2 separate regions of the Homo sapiens genome follow, and region 2 is linked to region 1. The links come from fine-mapping of genetic effects on gene expression. Tissue or cell type: whole blood. Region 1 holds a variant in brackets; the other region holds the start of a gene. All regions are shown on one strand. Distances are between the middles of the regions. Region 1 overlaps PDE5A (phosphodiesterase 5A). Region 2 holds the start of PDE5A (phosphodiesterase 5A).

Region 1 (5,000 bases):
ATTATTATGTGGCTAATGACCTCTTCATGCAGCTCTTATTCCTTGTCTCTCTTTAAAGCTCTATTAGTTCTACATCTCCTTTTAAAGAATAGTAGCTGATGCACTTCCAGTGTGCCAGGAACTACGTTAAACCCTTCACTCACATGAATGCATTTAATCTTCCCAATAACCCTTTAAGGTAGATCCTTTTATTGCCCTCATTTTGCAGATGAGGAAACTGAAGATCAAAGGGATTAACCAGTTCCATCCTGGTTTGTCAGCCAGCAACTAAGTGGTAAAGATGGGATTCAAGCCCAGAGCAAGCAATCTTAATAATTAGTCCCCAAAGCCTCCCTGCAACTTTCCATTTTGGTTTAAAATTTTCACGACAAAGAGTAGTTATGTGTACATAAAAAGCAAACACTACTCTGAGTTTGTTTATACAGATATAAATTTAAAGATAATTCTGGAAGTCAAATATTGCACCTTGTTAGTGGCCTGGGTTTATTTTTTGGCCAGCCAAATTACTTTTTATATTATAACAGCCACGCTTGATAGTGTGTCTGTTCTGTCTCTCTTCATTCTTTTCTCTGAAAACGTTAATTCTCAGGAGAAATAATTTTGAACTTGGCAGTGTGAACCTGGGAGGAAAGGGAGCAAGATGAGAAGGAAGGAGAATGGGGAGGGTCAGCAAGATGTTTAAAAAGCTGTGTTCTGGGCCGGGCGCAGTGGCTCACGCCTGTAATCCCAGCACTTTGGGAGGCTGAGGCAGGCGGATCACGAGGTCAAGAGATCGAGACCATCCTGGCTAACATGGGGAAATCCCATCTCTACTAAAAATACAAAAATTAGCTGGGTGTGGTGGCGCACGCCTGTAGTCCCAGCTACTCAGGAGGCTGAGGCAGGAGAATTGCTTGAACCCGGGAGGCAGAGGTTGCAGTGGGCCGAGATCATACCACACTGCACTCCAGCCTGGTGACAGAGTGAGACTCTGTCTCAAAAAAAAAAAAAAAAAAAAAAAAGCCGGGCGTGGTGGCTCATGCCTGTAATCCCAGCATTTTGGGAGGCTGAGGTGGGCGGATCACAAGGTCAGGAGATCGTAGCTATCCTGGCTAACACGGTGAAACCCTGTCTCTACTAAAAATACAAAAAGAAATTAGCCGGGCGTGGTGGCGGGCGCCTGTAGTTCCAGGTACTCAGGAGGCTGAGGCAGGAGAATGGCGCAAACCCGGGAGGCGGAGGCTGCAGTGAGCCGAGATCGCACCACTGCACTCCAGCCTGGGTGACAGAGCGAGACTCTGTTTAAAAAAAAAAAAAAAAAAAAAAAAAAAAAAAGCTGTGTTCTGGAAGCCCTCTCTTGAATAAAGTTACAGATTGAACATCCCTTATCCGAAATGCTCGGGACTTAGAAATGTTTCAAGTTTTAGATTATTTTTGGATTTTGGAATATTTGCATTATTATCAGTTGAGCATCCCTAACAGAAAAATCCAAAATGCTTCAATGAGCATTTCTTTTGAGGGTCATGTTAGCACTCAAAAAGTTTCACATTTTGGAGCATTTTGGATTTTCAAATTAGGTATACTCAATCTGTATTTAGTCCCCAGTGAAGCTACTGAAGATTTTTTCATCTCATGAAATGCTTAGTGTAAGAGTCCAAGGCTCATATTAAGTCACCACAAGGTAAAACAGACACCAGCAGGAGAGGATGTGAGAGCACAGAGAGAGACATGAGAAAGCTCAGGAACCCAGCAGAAGTCTAAAGGAGAGAGCTTCGGGCTATTTGGGGATCTGTGGCCAAACCCACTTCAATCAGATCTGTAAGAAGGCAGCAGGTCCTTGGCTAAGAGTGGGGTTACATATTCATGTAATGAAATTTAAATCATCTCTCAGTAGAATGCCTAGAATTAAAAAGACTGATACACTATGTGTTGCCAAGGATGTGATGTAAGGGGAACTCTCATACACTGCTGATAAGAATGAAATATGGTACAGCTACTTTGGAAGAGTTTGGAAGTTTCTTATCAAATTAAATAAATACCTACCATATGACTTAGCAACTGCCCTCCTATGTATTTACCCAAAAGATGTGAAAGCATAAGTCCACACAAAGGTCTGTATGCAAACACACTGACAGCAGCTTTGTTTTGTAATAGACACAAACTGGAAATAACTGAAATGTTTATCAACTGATGAATGCATAAACAAATTGTAGTATATCCATACCATGGAATAAATCACTCAGCAATAAAAAGGTACAAACTACTGATACATCCAACAGTAGGGCTGAATCTCACACCCATTAGGCTAAGTGAAAGAAGCTACATACAAAAGACCACATACTGTATGATTCCATTTAAATGACATTCTAGAAAAAGCAAAACAATAGTGACAAAAAGCAGATCAGTGCTTGTCAGGAGCTGTGGGTTAAGGGAGGAGGAGATCAACTATGAAGGGGTACAGGGGAACATTTGAAGTGACAGAAATGTTCTATATCTTGATTGCAGTGGTGGTTACATGATCGAATATACATATCTCAAATTCATCAAATTGTACACTTAAGCTGGGTAAATTATATTATATGTGTATTAATCTGTTCTCACACTGTTCTGAAGAAATACCTGAGACTGGGTAATTTATAAAGGAAAGAGATTTAATTGACACACAGTTCCTCATTGCTGGGGAGTCCCCAGGAAACTTACAATCATGGCAGAAGGCAAAGGAGAAGCAGACACCTTGGGCGGCAGGATGGTGTGAGTACAAGTAGGGGAAATGCCAGATGCTTATAAAACCATCAGATCTCATGAGACTCACTCACTATCACGAACAGCATGGGGGAAAACGCCCACATGATCCAATTACCTCCACCTGGTCCCGCCCTTGATACGTAGGGATTATGGGGATTATAATTTAAGGTGAGATTTTGGGTGGGGACACAGACAAATCATGTCAGTACGCGAATTATATCTCAATATAGCTGT[G/GT]TTTTTTTAATTTTTTATTTAATTTAAATCATCCTCACCGGCAGTCATAATATGGAAGAATGTATATCCTGAGGATACTTTCTGTAGAAAGGGCCATCCTACTCACTTCTTCCTAGTGATTCTGTTGCATTCTCATCAGTTCCCCCAATCCTGACTGTTGGAGAAATTGTTCACACTATCTAGAAAGAGAAGCTTAATCAGGGCATAATTCAGGCTGAATCCCTTTGCCGGTACAAAGCTGTTTTGGGGGCCACGATTTTAAAATATCCTTAATAACTAAAAGCTGAACATTGTCTTCCTAAGTGCACGGAATCTTAGTCTGTGGTTTATAACTAGGCCTGCCAGATGAAATTTGAGTTGGATTTGAGTTCAGATAAACAACAAATAATTTCTTAGTATAATGATGTCCCAAATAATGCATGGGACACATTTCTTTAAAAATTTGATATACCTGGCAACCATATTAATAACACAATAATGATCAGTCCATGTATGGCCTTTTCAATTTTATGTATTCATTCACATACTTAGTTAATTAAACTAATTAATTAATCTCATATTACGTCATTGCTGCAGGCATTTTTAGTTACTACTGCTGGAACTACACTTTTTAAGAAACCATGTGGCAACTCTAAGGCACTGAGAATGACTACTGAGAAGTAACTGACTTAGGGCCTTGTTAATCAAATTGTGATCAGCAGACCCAGGTAATCATCAACTTGGTACTTGTTAGAAAAGAATCTCAGGTTCTACCCAGACCTACTGAATTCAGAATCTGCATTTTAACAAAATCCCCAGGTGATTCCTATGCACAACACAGTTTTAGAAGCACTGATTTAGAAAGCTGTGTTTTAGGCAAATTTCCAGGCAGTGATATGTAGAATGGACTAAAGGGAAATTGACTGCAAGGATAGAAACACCTTACAAGAACATTTAAAAACCTTAGGCATTACTTCAAAATCTGAATCATGGTGCATGCAGGTAGCACGAATAAAAAGAAAAAAATATTGAAATCAGAAACATTCTAATGAAAAAAATCAATGGGGTTTGGTAACACACTAGATGGAGGAAGGAGAATAAATGTCAGAATTTGAATATAAATCAAGTAGAAGCATCAAGTACTTCTAATATGATTGGCAGTGGTTCTCAACCTTGGCCACACACTGCAGTCATTTGGGAGCTTTAACAAATACTAATACCTGGGTCCCAATCCCTGAGATTCTGATTTAAGGTGAAACCTCGGCATTAGAATTTTTAAATGCTATACCCAGATAACTGGTAAAACATTTCCGCGTGTGTCTGTGAGGGTGTTCCCAGAAGAAATTAGCATTTGAATCAGTAGACTGAGTGAAAAAGATTCTCCCTCACCAATGTAGGTGGGCATCATCCAATCCACTAAGGGCCCAAACAGAACAAAAAGGCAGAGGAAGAGCATATATTGCTCTCTCTTCGGAAGCTGGGACATCCATCTTCTCCCTCCTCTGAGACAACAGAACTTCAAATACTCAGATCCTTGGATTCTAGGACTCACACCAGCAAATCTCCCATTTCTCAGGCCTTCAGCCTCAGACTGAATTACACCACAGGTTTTCCTGTTCTCCAGCTTGAAGATGGCAGACTGTGGGACCTCTTGGTCTCCATAATTGCATGAGCTAATTTCCATAAATAAATCCCCTCATATATCCTCATATATCCTATTGATTCTGTTTCTGTGGAGAACCCCAATTAATACAATTGGTAATCTTTTAGACTTCTCCAGTTGGTTGTAATACACAGTCAGGATTGAGAATGCTCAATTGAAATATTCAGTTTAACTGATAATTTATTAACTCTTTTTTCCAAATAAGTGTAAAATGAAGAGGGAATTCAGTGATAACAGAATCCAAATCTTCTAGTTAGGTGAAATATAAACTAACATATTTTCATTTGCCTGTTAAAATTTCAAATTGAAATTTACATAATTAGAATTAGCTATGATTTCCATTTTTTTCAAAACCTCAATTTGAATGAAATCCGTTAATGACCACTGTAGTTGGATGAGC
Region 2 (5,529 bases), 36 kb after region 1:
TCCCGGAGCCTTCCCCTCTGTCAAAAAACCCTGAAAGTGACTAAATTGACACCAACTCTGGATGTTCCTTAGGAAAAAAACAAAACAAAACAAAACAAAACAAGATTAAAAAGGGCCCAATTTAAGACCCTTATTAATACATCTGCAAGAGAGCAAAGAATAACAACAACAACAAAAGTTATACAGTCAATTTTCAATGATACATCGTCCCACTGGTGCCACCGGGGCGCCACCACCCAGCACCCGAGACCCGCCGCGCCCCCGGAAAAAGTGGGAAGGGACGTAGGGGGATGCTGAAGGAAGTACCTTGTTTTGTCTCCAAAGGGCAACATAGCAAACGTGGGAAGTTCGTTTTCGAACTCCGCCGATCCTGGACTCCAGGAGGCTCCGTAGGGGCAACAACGCGCGCAGGTGAGGTGAGGTGAGGTCGGCGACTCAGAACCAGCTCCCTCACGGCCCCGGCCTCCGCGCCGCCGCCCGTCGCCTCCCGCTCGCCCCGCGCTGCGCCGCCCCCTGGCGGGGAGCGACCGGCAGAGCCGCGGCCGCGCGCCGGCGAGTGGGACCCGGGCGTCGAACCCGGGCGGGCTCCTCGACCATCACTGCCGGGCGTGTGTCACCCTCCCGGCCAAGACGGCCAGCACCCGCTGCCCGACGGCCGCTGCCCAGAGCAGGCGGCAGCGGGGCACGGACTCTTTCTGCAAAGGGGCGCGTCCTGGAGTCCACGCACCCCGACTATGCATCAATTCCTCAGGCTTCGGGGCACCCGCCCGCCAAGCACTCTCTGCTCCACTCTTCTTGTCCCTCTGCTCCCAGTCTCAATTCCTCCCCAACTCTCCCGCGAGCGTTTCCCACGAGCGCCCCGACTGCCCGCTGCGCAGCCGCCTCCAAAAGGACAGGCTCCCTCCTCCCCGCCCTCCGCAAGGGCCGCCCCGGCGCTTGGCTCTGGACCAGAAAGAGCTGGCCTCTGGGGTCTGCGCTGCCCCTTGGGGTCCGCTCCAGGCGGCGCCTCCCCTGCGCCCTTTGTGTGCACGCCGCAAACCCCTCTGCAGAGCTCTACTTTTGGCGGCACAGCCTTCGGCGGAAAAGCGAGTGAAAGGAGGCGCGCGGGACAAGCAGGAGACTGGAAGGGGGGAAAAGGCAACCGCACTCACTTTGGCAAGGTTCCGTCATGTTGCCTTTGGGCTGTCCCGTGGACTCGTCCCTCACCCCAGCTTCCCCGCCCAGCCAGGGCCAGGGCGAGGGGGGACGGGGGAGGAGCGGAGCCATCAAGACCGACTTGGAAATGGTGCTTCCGGAGCTGCAGGGAAGGGGCTCAGAAACTGTTTGGGTTTTGCTGATTGGATTTTGGGGAACCAGAGGGCTAGAGAGGGGCTAGGGGAAGGCCCGTGAGCACGGATGTATGAAAATAATCATGTTCCCGGGGAATACCAAGAGGGTCGGGGGTGAGGGTGGGAGGTCGGCAAGTACATTTTTGTATTTGAACTTTGTGAGCAAGTTGTATCAAATCCGACACTTGAGTTTTTCGACTGTGCTCGCTTAGAGTTGAGGTTTCTACCTCGTAACAGGACCGAGGACCTACTTCAAAAGCAAAGGGCCTGGGAACAGGGGTGAACGAAGGGCACAATTCAACAGGGGAGAGAAATCAGCCCCGGGTCTTCCGTGGGTCCTCTTCTTACCTGGTGGCTTTTCTAACAAAGTATGAGAAGGTAAAGTCCCAGTGATCGTCCAGCCATGCTTCGACCGAGTCCTGATCCCTCTGCTGCTGCTTCTGCTGCTGGGGCTGCTGCTGCTGTCGCTGCTGCCCGAAGCTGGGGCCGGCCCGCTCCATGGTTGGCACCGCGCGCCTCGGAGGCTCTCTGGTACTGCTTTTCCACCCCAGCTGGGGTCCGTCCCTCAGAAGAACAGGACTCGGCCTCGAGACCCTCCCCCTTCGTCCTGCTCCAGTCGGGCCGGCTTTCGACAAAGCGGCCGGAGCGCCAGGCCAGCCTCCTGCCCCGCCCCGCCCCGCGCGGTTCTACGGGCGCCCAGGTGTGGTGGGCGGGGCCAGGCGCAGCTGCTGCGCCCCCCCCACCCGGGGTCCGGCAGTGTTCCGCTCTCGCAGGCTCTTCAGTCCCCTGGTTCCCAGGAGGCGGCGGCGGCGGCGGCAGCGGCAGCGCCCGGCGAGCTCTCCGGAAGCCAAGTGGCGGCGGCTGGAAGGAGGCCGCGCGGCCGCTGGGGTGCGCTGTGTGCCAAGCCGACTTCTGGGGAGCGCGCTAGGTGACTGGGTGTGTTCTCAGAGTGCCCCAGGGAGGGAAGGTCGCGATGTGGGAAGTTTTGCCCGAAAGTAAGAGATGATGAGACCCTGGGCCCTTTTCCTGGGGCCTGGGAGTGCAATGACCTTCCCGCCTAGCTTTTCCCTAGCCCTACGCTTGGGTCTGGGAGGAGCGGGACCGACCTCCTTCAGAGCCCAGCCCGCTCAGTGACTTAAAGCGGTCCAGCCACGGACCACTGCGGGTGGAGAGAGCTGGGGCGTGTGCTAGCAAGAGAGATTTGCAGGTGTAGGTGGGTAACTTGCAACAAAGCCATACCCGTGCTTAATGTTAATGATAACAGCAATAATTATAACTTAAGTGCCTTTAACCATTGCCTCAAACTTCCCTTATGCATAACTGGAAAAAGATTTACTTGGAAAAGAAAAAGCAAACAAATAATTTCCAATGCTTTGTGCATGAAGTTAGAAAACAAGGGCACCTCTGTACAATTAGGTTAATCCGAGAGCACTGGCGCAACCCAGGTGCAGTCGAGGGCAACCAGTTATCCCAATTTTAAATTAATGCATCATTTTAATTAAATTGGAATTAACACTCCCTCAAAAGTATCCATTAAAAATGGCTCAGCCTTTTTGTCCAATCCCTATCTTGCTTCTTTAAAAAAGGAATTGGTGTCATCCTTTGCTTTGTCTGCATCCCCATCTTCCTGTCATGCATTGGCAGTTTTAATATGGCATTTTGCAATGACCTATATTTTTTGGTAGAATTAAATCTGGAATTATGGGTTGCACAATGTGTGAATGACACCATTAGCAGTGATATAAAAAAAAATGAGTTAGCTGATATACTTCTGACAACTTCCTTCTAAATACTCTTGGCAAGAATTTAAGGCATTATTCACTACATAGAAACACATCATTAAATTGATAATCTGAGAACTTTTAAAAGTATCTTCTAGTCCCCCAATGCAATGGTTTATCTTTCCTTCATTGAGTAATTGACCTTTTGCGACTTCAGTTTTTCTGAAACTTTACTGCTGTATGCAGGTAGCCACAACCAAAGAAAAGCAATCAAAGCAGTAGAGTATGAACTAATGGGTGATAAATTATATTGGATTTAGAAATGAGAATTCTCTCCTAATGTGTTACTATGATAGTGATTATAGTGCTCATGGAATACAGTCATGCGTCACCGAACAACAGGATACATTCTGAGAAATGTATCCTTAGGCAATTTCATCCTTCTCTGAACATCACAGTGTACTAACACAAAATAGATGGCTCAGCCTACTACACACTTAGGCTATTGCTCCTAGACCACAAATCTATACAGCATATTACTGTACTGAATACTGTAGGCAATTGTAATGCAATGATATTTGTGTGTCTAAACATATCTAAACATAGAAAAGGTACAGTAAAAATATAGTATTATCTTATGGGACTCATATATGTGGTCTGTCGTTGACTGAAAAGTGGCACATTACTGTGGAAAGTTTCTCCTCAGTACAGTTTTTTCTTGTGGAAATCCATGCATTCCTCCTAACAGGAGATCAATCGTAATTTAAAACTCTGCTTATCTACTAAAGATGCAGTGAATTTGGGGCTTGAATTATTTGCTTTTGTTGGATACTTGATTAAATAAACACGTATAATCATTTCAATGTTTGTATTCCCTCCAAAATTCATGTTGAAACTTAATCCCTAATTCAACAGTATTAAGAGGAGGTGCCTTTAAGTGGTGATTAGACCATTAGGGCTCTGCCTTTGTGAATGCATTAGTGCCTTTTTAAAAAAAGGCCCAAAGGAGACAGTTGGCCCCTTCTATTCTTTCCACTATGTGAAGACACAGCACTGACCCTTGCTGAGGATGCAGCAACAAGGTGCCATTTTGTAAGCAAAGAGCAGCCCTCACCAGTTGCCAAATCTGCTGGCACTTTGATTTTGGAGTTTCCAGCCTCCAGAACTGAGAGAAATTAATTTCTATTGTTTATAAATATCCCAGTCTGTGATATTTTATTACAGCAACACAAATGGACTAAGACAGTGGGTAATATCAAAATGTTCATTTTTCTCTCCTAACCTGAAAGGGTTAAATTATCAGAAACCAGGAAGGTTTCTGAAAAATTGCTTCAAGAAAAACAATCTATAGGCTGGGCACAGTGGCTCATTCCTGTAATCTCAGAACTTTGGGAGGGAGAGGTAGAAGGATACTTGAGCTCAGGAGTTTGAACCAGCCTGGGCCACATGGCATGACCCCATCTCTACACAAAATTTTTAAAAATTAGCCAGGCATGGGGGAACACACCTGTAATCCTAGTTATTCGAGAGGCTGAGGCAAGAGGATTGAGCCCAGGAGGTCAAGGCTGCAGTGAGCCATGATCGTGCCATTGCACTTCAGCCTCAGTGACAGTGTAAGACCCCCGGCTCTATAACAAAAAAGAAAAAAAAAGAAAAACAGTACATAGATTCTCTCAATAGTGAATCTCAAGTCTGTGTGGTATATATGATAGTTTGGGAGTTACTGTGAAGGCCTATTACCTGAGAAACATATCACAAGGGATTGGGGAACAGAAGTGTCTCAAACAGTTCTAGTCTCTGGGAGATTCAGCCAAAATGTGTAACTATACCTCCTGTAAATTTAAAGTAGTTAAAGGTAAGCATATTTTGAACTGACATTACCTGGGCCTCTTGTTTTTCAACTCCATTTTATTCTTTATCCCAATTTGCCCAATTATTTTGTTTTAACTTGGCATGAATTGTTCTAAGCACCTCAAATCTTGTTATGGAATTAGTTGAAGAATAAGTAAATCATAAACACTCCCAGGATATAACTTGAAAAATGCTGTTAATGCTATTTATAACAAACAAATGAGCAATGATGTATGTATGTGTATATGTATGATATATATATGTGTGTATATGTATATATATATTTAATTTTTGTAAATGACCCAGTCTGTGGTATTTTGTTATTGCAACACAAGTGGACTAAGATATATATATATATATATATAAAATCAATGATATATATGTGTATATACATACATATATGTCATTGCTCATTTGTTGCTCATGAGCAACAGCTTAACTAAAGACCTTCAATGTATTCCCACTGTGCTAAAATAAAATTCAAACTCTGTAACGTGGCTTATGGGGTTCTACATTATTTGGTTGTTACCTACCTGTACTGCTAAAGATTTTGGTCATACAAATAGAAAAAACAAATGCAACAAAGCAAAAACACAAAAAAGAAATATAAGGCATAAAAATGAAAAAGT

Evidence for each region.
Region 2: PDE5A starts here. The variant in region 1 is fine-mapped to the expression of PDE5A in whole blood (INTERVAL, PIP 0.94).

What each region holds. Positions count from the first base shown.
Region 1 is chr4:119,591,174-119,596,173 of GRCh38, forward strand. The region is part of intron 3 of PDE5A (phosphodiesterase 5A); the gene reads right to left. Among named protein-coding and RNA genes, the nearest start is that of PDE5A, 35 kb to the right of the region's middle. The variant G/GT (reference allele first, on the strand shown) is at 2,959.
Region 2 is chr4:119,626,844-119,632,372 of GRCh38, forward strand. It overlaps PDE5A (phosphodiesterase 5A), which reads right to left and starts at 1,961. Exons shown (of 21, transcript NM_001083.4): 1 at 1,677-1,961. The coding sequence starts at 1,828. It overlaps LOC107986192 (a long non-coding RNA gene), which reads left to right and starts at 947. Exons shown (of 1, transcript NR_165235.1): 1 at 947-3,912. RefSeq lists silencers at 395-674, 1,895-2,294 and an enhancer at 805-854.